2 separate regions of the Homo sapiens genome follow, and region 1 is reported to be linked to region 2. Evidence: microRNA targets listed by miRTarBase, many of them from high-throughput screens and not tested one by one. Region 2 holds a microRNA gene; the other region holds the end of a gene's coding sequence.
What was found. The annotated mature microRNA hsa-miR-4651 reads CGGGGUGGGUGAGGUCGGGC and lies in region 2 at 3,025-3,044, opposite strand. An mRNA with a match to its seed (bases 2 to 7 or 8) in the 3' UTR can be bound and repressed. Matches are read on the target gene's strand: a 7mer-m8 pairs with bases 2 to 8, a 7mer-A1 pairs with bases 2 to 7 and ends in A, and an 8mer does both.

Region 1 (4,000 bases), not on the chromosome of region 2:
GTGGGCACCTGTAATCCCAGCTACTCGAGAGGCTGAGGCAGGAGAATCGCTTGAACCCGGGAGGTGGAGGTTGCGGTGAGCCGAGATCGTGCCACTGCACTCCAGCCTGGCAACAGAGCAAGACTCCTTCTAGGGGGGAAAAAAAAGGGCATTTCTTCCTATTCAATGAGAACATGAGGAAAAGGCAAAAGGCAGAGGCTGGCTGGGAGTGGGTTTGTGTGTGTAAAATTGAGTTTCAGTATAAAAAAAGATCAAGGCAGGACTGAAAGCCCTGAGGCTGGCATCGCAGCTCCAGAGCGAGGGGCAAGCGTAGGGCGAGGAGCGAGGATAGGGCGAGGGCGGGAGTAGAGCGAGGGGTAAGGCTAGGGTGAGCACAGGTGGCAGGGGACTCTGGTGGGCCTGGACTCTGGTGGGCGGGGTGACCCAGGAGCTCGGATGAAGCTCCTACGGGCTCCAGGAAGGTTCCCTCAAGTGCCTTCCCCACCCAACCCCTAGGCCCTGAACAGAGTCGAGACCCAGGAATGTCCCACGCCCCATCGCTTCACCTGTCCCAGGGAGAAATTCTGGGGTTTTTTCCACTTCAGCCCTCTCTGGGGGAAGACGTCGGGTCAGAAGCACATCTGCTCCTGAGAGCCAGCCGGGAGCACCACCATGACTCTTGCTTAGCCAAACCTGAGGGATCTGAACCTCCTCCTAGGCCCATCCGTGCATGCCCTTGTAAAATCCTTTCAGCAAATGAACCCCGCCGCCATCCCCCCCAACCCCCGCCACCCTCACATCTGATAGGCTTCTTCAGCCTCCACCATCCCCAGGTGACCTCTGATCACCCTGGCCTGCCTTCAGCAAGAATCCTGCTAGGTGGGTTTAGCCGAAAACCCCCGGACCCCTGAGGTTTGCTCTTAGTGATTTTCCATCCACTGATGGTACCTGTACCTGTCTCGATGGTCCTGAATAAAGTCTTCCTCACGGCCATTTAACAAGCTCGCCATCCCACTGTGGGGAGAGAGACACATCTGCTGTAGAAAGAGTGATACACACACAGTGGGGGGAGCCCTCAATCGGGGACAACAGCAGGCTCCCAGCATTCTCCCAGCGTTCAACCGTGTATGTCACTAAGCTCAGGTGCTTGGGCCTCATGGGGGACTCCTACACAGCAGCTCCTGCTGAGCACTTTGGTGGCTGGAATATTCTAGAAAGAGGAATAAAGTAGGAGACACGAGATCTGTGGTGCTACTTTGTAATTCGCACTGTAGGGAAAAGAAGATGCCGAAGATGCTGTAGTTAAGCCCCAAATTTATGTGCAAGCCTCTGGGTTTTTGTCTTGTTTTTCAATCCTGTCTTCTCTGTTTTGCCAAATGAGGAAATGGTGGGGAGAATTAAAGCCTCACACCTTTAACCCCTCCACTGGACTAATCCAACTGTATCATTTTATCTTCGTCCTCAGCTTTTTTGAAGAGAAAGGGAGTGCAGGCTCCGCAGTGCGAAATCGTGAAACTTATCCTTAATTTGGTGAATGGAGGGTCTGACAAGTGAGGGGCCCAGGAGCTATGACCCTGTGGGGAGACCAAGATTGGCAAGAGGGAGGCTCGGCTCGCCTCCCCTTTCCATGTGATCCCACCCAGAGCTGCCGCCTTCAGCTGGCTCTCTGTGCCCTGTGGGGCTCCCCCATCACAACCGCCTAGAGCAGCAGGGTCTCGGACAGCCCAAGCGTAAGGGACGCTTGCTGCTGCCTGGGGACAGCACCCCCTCCCCCGGTAACAGTCCCCATTTCCTCCTGGGAAATGACTCTCCCACAACATACCCAGGCCGGGTGTGAGAAGAGGGCTTCCCCTCCCTGGCTAAGCAAGGGGGATGCTCCTCTGCAACTGAATCTGGAACCGGCTGACCCCAAAGTTCCTGTGTCCCTGGGACCCACCTCTTCCTGCATGGTGTGGTCAGCAATTCCTCCATCAAGCCCCCGACAACCCTCCAGACACCCTGGTCTGCAGGGGCAAGTGGAGGCCAGAGAACGCTCCGACACAGGTCATGACCCAATTCACAGCAAGAAACAGAACCCCAACCTCACATCACCCCAACAGCACTCCTTTTGCTCTGCAATCCCCAGGTGACGTAGGTCTGTCCACCAGGGAGTGGGCACACAGGGTGGCCACGACGCTGCTCGGACACCGCAGTCATGTCCCTCTCAGTGGCCTCCAACACTCCACTGGCTGGGTGCTCCCTGGACCCCGACCCATAACAAGTGTCCCTGTGATGTAGCTGTCTGGCCCCACCCTGAGCCCAGAGCGTCCCCCGGGCAGAAGGGGCAAGAAGTCTGACCCCAGGGGCCTGGCCCCACACAGCCTTCACCCCAGCACCTCTGAGACAAGAGCTGTCGGAGTCACTGAGGGAGCGAACCCAGCCGTCAGGACTTGACCCCAGGGGATCACGGAGGGAGACTCCACATGGAAGAACAGCCTGTTCGGCTTAAAACAGACATGGCCAGATCCCCATCCCTGAGGCCCTGGCTGTGGGGCCTGCAACAAGCTGTCACCTAGCCCTGGAGATGACAGCAACACCCCCCTCACAAGGCGGCCCGAGGATTCTCCCGGATAGTCTCACCAGGTGTGGTCCAGCCCAGGACAAGAGCACACAGAGGAAAACAGCACACAGAGGACAACCAGGAGGCGCCTGGTGGTCCACTCAGCTCAGCCGGCAGAGGCTGACCCGGCTTTCCAGGAGTGCAGGGATGGATTAGTGATGCTTGCGGTGGGCCCGGGCGATGGCGACGGTGACCTGTGTTGCACATGTGCCATCTCTCAGGATTCTTCTCCTCCCTGAACCCCAGTGCACTCTCTGACCTCATCCTGGTGTCCCCTCAACACAAGAGCAAGGCCTCCTGCACCGGAAGCGTCTGGCCATGAGTGGCCTCCCGACCACCTGGACCTGTGTGGGCTACAGCTCCGCCAGGCCTCGCACAGTCCACCCTCAACCCAGCCATCCCTTGACCTGGGAGGGTCAGGGAAATCAGGGCTTCTGAGACAGAGGGGCTGGTTGCCAGCCACCCCCGAGAAAGAGATGTGACCTGAGCCCTGGGTCCCTGGATGAAGGGGCTCTGGGGGACACACGAAATCACAGATGGGAATCTGGGAGTGCCAAGCCCGTGGGAATTGCCATTTATTCCCAAAGTTGCCAAAATCATCACCAAGGATTCACCGAGGGTGCGTGAGCGGGTGCGTGAGGGGAACGAGGAGGCTCAAACACTGACTGGGGGTTGGGAGTTTGGAGGGAGGGGGAATGGGTGGGGGCCCCAGCCACCCCTCCCCCTTCTAATGCCACGGGAAAGGGGTCCTCCTCTGGCCAGCTCCCCTCCCCAGGCCCCATGTCCAGTTTCTCTCCGGGGAGGTGGGGTGGGAAAGGAAGAGGGTGTAGTGTGAGTGGGCCCCAGGAAGGGGAAGGGCACTGGGGGTGGGGATCCCCCATTTCACATGCACTCACAACACTGATCTCCCAGGGAGCCGGAATGGGGCAGCCGGATGGAGCCAGGCCCCCTTCCGCCCTGGATTATAGGAGGAAGGGATTAGTGTTGGGGGCCGGGGGGCCCGGGGGCATCATGGGGGGCAGGCCAGGGCCCCCGCCAAGGGGAGAGATGTACGTGGGTGGCGCTCCAGGGACGGGAGGCACAGGACTGAGACGGAGCTGGTTCAGGGTGAGCGTCGCGGGAGGCGCGGGCTGGAAGGGGTTGGTGACGGAAGGGCCAGTGGCTGGGCCTCCTGCAGGAAGAGTAAACCAGAGACACGGAGTGGAGTCAGTGGCGCAGCCCACCTGTGTCCATCCAGCATGTGCAGGCAAAGGGCGAAGTGTCCCTGCCCCGTGAGGCACCTCCTCTGGTGGAACCCACAGGAAGGACTTGAGCAGGTGATGGGCCCACACTCACCGCCTGGCAGGAAGGGGTTGGAGGCCTTGGCTCCAGGCGGCGTGGGGCCCGGCCGGCTCACCAGCGAGTCCAGGTCGACGAGGGCTG
Region 2 (4,500 bases):
ACTGCAACCTCCGCTTCCCAGGTTCAAGTGATTCTTCTGCCTCAGCCTCCTGAGTAGTTGGGATTACAGGTGCACACCACCACACCGGCTAATTTTTGTATTTTTAGTAGAGACGGGGTTTCACCACGTTGGCCAGGCTGGTCTCGAACTCCTGACCTCAAGTGATCTGCCTGCCTCGGCCTCCCAAAGTGCTGGGATTACAGGCGTGAGCCACCATGCCCAGTCAATTTTTGTATTTGTATTTTTTTTATAGAGACAGGGATTCGCCGTGTTGCCCAGGCTGGTCTCAAACTCCTGGACTCAAGCAATTCACCCACCTTGGTCTCCCAAAGTGCCGGAATTACAGGCGTGAGCCACTGTTCCCAGCCTAGAATTGGCATTTGAAAGTCTTTTAAGGCTGTAGCCACCTGGGAGGCTGTGTGCTAATGAGCACAGAATCTTTGGCCAGGTGGTGGGTACTCGAAATTCCAGCTACTCAGGAGGCTGAGGCAGAATTCAAGCAAGGAAAATTGCTTGAACCTGGGGGAGGTGGAGGCTGCACTGAGCCCACTGCGCTCCAGCCTGGGCGACAGAGCGAGACTCCATCTCAAAAAAAGAAAAGAAAAGAAAAGAAAATTGTCATTTCTCCATTTCACCTTTTTCTAACTTTAATTTTTAAGTGAGTCTGACATATAACAGAAAGTTAAATCCCAACATGCTCAATTGAGGCCACACACGGTGCTAGTGCCAGAGCTTGACCTCTGTTTCTCTGGCTCCTCCCTAAAGCACAAGGACATCGAAGCTCTTGTAGGGGCGGCCAGCCTCTCTGGAACCATGAAAGGTCCTATAACTTCAAGAGCTTCCATCAGAAAAAAAAAAAAAAAAAAGAAGAAGAAATAAGAAAGCCAGGAACGGTGGCTCACACCTGTAATCTCAGCACTTTAGGAGGTCAAAGCAGGAGGACCACTTGAACCCCAGAATTCGAGACCAGCCTGGGCAACATGGCAAACCAAATCTCTAAAAAACATTTAAAAAATTAGCTGGGTGTGGTGGTGCGTGCCTGTACTCCCAACTACTTGGGAGGCTGAGGAGGGAGGATTGCTTGAATCCTGGAGGTTGAGGCTGCAGTGAGCTATGATTGCGCCACTGCACTCCAGCCTGCACGACAGAGTGAGACCTGTCTCACAAAAAAAAAAAAGTTACTTAAAAGCTAAATTATTTTTAACTTGAAATGTTCCATGGACTTCACGAGTAAATGTTCTGGATTTGCCAAGCAGTTTTGATTTCAATTGGCCTGTCTCCTAATCATACACAGACTTACCTAACACAGATTCTGATTTTCAAGGGGTTAAGGGTGGATCAACCCAGAGTTAACCAACAGCAGGTCCTAAAATTCAGGTATGTCTGGCAGCAAACATCCTCTGTGGCATTTATAAACTCCTACTACCCAGGACGATCCACACCTGATTTACATTGGCTGCGGTCAATGCTGCTGTTTTCAGGAATATCCCTGGGTTGTTTCATTTCAAATCTACCTATTATTTCTTCAAGTGCTAGACCTGAAGAATTTTGGAAAATTAAGATCACTCCTAAGTTTCCACACCACCACGCAACTGGCAGCTAGCATCCCATTCTCTGAAATGCGGATGTTGTACAAATACTTTTTATAATAAGCTATCTGCTCAGCGAAAGTTTCCAACATTAGATGGCATGAAGGTCATAAGTAGCTCAAAAACCACTCTCTTAAAAGGAAAATAAGAACTCCTAAAACAGCCCTCCTCCCAAAAAAAAGGAAGTGGACCTTTCTGGGTTCCCTGGTTTACTAACTGGGCCTTTGGAGCTGTTCTCCTGACCAAGCCAACCCCATAACCACTCAAAAGGGATTTCCGTAGGTAGAACTTGCAAATGGTTAATGAATCAATGCCTTCTCCATAAAGCAAGACCCAAGGAATTACAGCAGTGAACAACGGTGGGGATACTGGATCCCCCAGAGGGTTCCATAAACGTTCTGCTTACAAGGAGGATTAAAGTTCTCGATGCCACTCTCTGGGACCCTGTCTTGATCCTCAGAATCTCAACCCTGTGGGGAGAGCAGGGTGGCTGTCTTACTACCAGACCCACTGATCAGAAAACGGAGGCTCCAGGAGGTATCTTGCTTGCCAAGAATCAAACCAGGGCCACCCAGTCCAGTCCTGTCTCCTTTTGTGCTGGCATCATTCTCCAGCTTGGCCAAGCTCAGAGGCAAGGCAAGGCAAGGCTGCAGCTTTAAGGGTTTAAGAGAGGAGACAGCCACTTTCATTGAAACAGCCCCAAACTCCTTATTAGTGGTCACCAGTTTACACAAGGGTAACTCGTTTTGAAAAACAATACGCAGAAAGTCGAAGTCAATCAAGCTCACTGAAACCTCTACTCTCCTCCCCCTGGCGCCCAAGAGACCTTGAACTCTTACCCAATTGCTCCCCCGATCTAAGGGTGTCCCGGCTCCCCCAGGAGATCCGGGTACCTGTGTTGTGGGGGCCGCCGAGACACCTGACTGCGAGGGGCACTGCCCTCAGGGATGCAGGCCGGGCTGGGGGGCTCCCGTGATCCATCGACTCAGCCCACCTGATGCTGCAGGGTTAGATTCGGGTCCCATGAGCATGCATCGAGCGCCTCTCACGTTAGGTACCCCCAGAATTCGCTGCCTCCCGAGGCCCATTCATCGTACAGATGGGGAAACTGAGGCTCGGAGAGTTAAAGTGGCTTAGCCCGTGGGGGGCGGCGGCGCGGGGACTGGACCCCGAGCCCTGAGATACCGAGCCCTAACCCTCAGCCGAGGGCCTGCCGGGCTCTCTCGGCCCAAGCTGTGGAAAAGTCGACCCTCAGGCCGCCGCGGGAGATCAGCTCTAGGGGAAGGGCGACGCGGAGGAGGGCCGGGGTGGGAGCCATGCCTTCCGCCCGAGCGTCGGGCCAGACGCGCAGTGCCCAGGCCCGAGGGCCCACCCCGACGCAGAGAGCCAGGCGGCCGCGGTGAACTGAGGCGCCCGGCAAACCCCGAGTCTTGGGGCCCGACCTCACCCACCCCGCCGTCGCCGCGAAAGATAGCACTCACCGCTGGCAGCCCGGCTGCTCTCTGCGGGCACCTGGGCAGGGCTCAGGCCCACACCACTGAGGCGCTACCACCGCCTTCGCCGGCCGCGGGGGTGGGGGCGTGGCCATTGGGCCGCCGCCCCGCCCACTCGAGCCGCGCGTGCATTCCCGGAGCCCCGCGCTTCCCCCTGCAAATTTGCGCTCTTGGTACGGCCCGGCCCGGCCACGCCCCCTCGCGGCTCGGCTGGGTCGCCCGGCAGAGAAATGAAAGTGCGTGGTTCCGGGGGTGGCGGAGTCGCCTGGAGACGGCGGCTGCGGCTTCTACAGCTCGGACCCTGCAGGTCACCGGGCCGGCTGCCCACCTTCCCGGGGATCACTGCAGAACTGTGGCTGTGCGCCCGCCGGTCTAGCCTCCTCCTTCGGGCCGCCGCTTGCTTGTGATCGCCACATTGTCTCCTCCACGGCCCTGTTTCCTCACCTGAAATTGGCGAGGCTTCAGGCCCAAGTCGTCTCCCTGGGTTCCCTCCATCCAGCCTGACGGCGGAGGGCGCGCGTTTGTTTTTAGAGACAGGGTCTCGTTCTGTCGCCCAGGCTGGATTGCAGTGGTGCAGTCACAGCTCACTGCAGCCTTCAACTCCTGTGCTCAGGCGATTCTCCCACTTCAGCCTCCCAGTAGCTGGGACTACAGGCGCGCCACCACACCTAGCTAATTTTATTTTATTTTATTTGCAGAGATGCGGTCTCGCTATGATGCCCAGGTTGGTCTCGAACTGGTCTCAAGTGATCCTCCCTCCTCGGCCTCTCAAAGCGCTGCGATTACAGGCGTGAGGTCCCACACGCTGCCTAGAGCTCGCTTTTGAAGGCCGGCCTGTTGGGGGTGGGAAGTGACCAAGCAGGAGGCAAGCCCTGGATGGAAGAGGAGTGGGGGGATACAGAGAGCTTCTGGGGTTTGAAAAGTCTGGCAGCCTTGGTTGGGGAGTGAAGCCCACCTCTGCCTCCTGCTATGGTTTCTACTTTACAGGGTCATGAAGATTAAGTGGTATAACCTTTGTTCCTAAAGGATTTAGAGCACGGCATTACTAAGTGTTCTCATCGCCATTGTTATTATTACTACTACTACTATTATTACTAGCTGTGCTGTGAATTCCTTTTGCAACACTGTGCAACTCACTTCTCTCAGAGCCCCTTCTCCATCTTTTAAAAATAGCCCAGGCACGGTGGCTCACGCCTGTAATCCCAGAACTTTGGTAGGCTGAGGTGGGCGGATCACCTGAGGTCAGGAGTTCGAGACCAGCCTGACCAACATGGCAAAACCCCGTCTCTACTAAAAATACAAAAATTAGCTGGGCATGGTGGCGGGTGCCTGTAATCCCACCTACTGGGGAGACTGAGGCAGGAGACCCACTTGAACCCCGGAGGCAGAGGTTGCAGTGAGCCCAGTTCACACCACTG

Region 1: miRTarBase lists EPN1 as a target of hsa-miR-4651. Seed matches in the 3' UTR shown: 7mer-m8 at 3,442-3,448 and 8mer at 3,383-3,390.

The regions. Positions count from the first base shown.
Region 1 is chr19:55,694,897-55,698,896 of GRCh38, reverse strand. EPN1 (epsin 1) reads right to left here. Exons shown (of 11, transcript NM_001130072.2): 10 at 3,914-4,000; 11 at 1-3,749. The coding sequence ends at 3,541. Among named protein-coding and RNA genes, the nearest start is that of EPN1, 22 kb to the right of the region's middle.
Region 2 is chr7:75,913,750-75,918,249 of GRCh38, reverse strand. It overlaps MIR4651 (microRNA 4651), which reads right to left and starts at 3,053; the gene lies at 2,981-3,053. POR (cytochrome p450 oxidoreductase) reads right to left here and starts at 3,095. Exons shown (of 16, transcript NM_001395413.1): 1 at 3,071-3,095. It overlaps LOC124901680 (a long non-coding RNA gene), which reads right to left. Exons shown (of 2, transcript XR_007060393.1): 2 at 3,756-3,954. RefSeq lists a silencer at 2,888-3,377 and an enhancer at 3,638-3,687.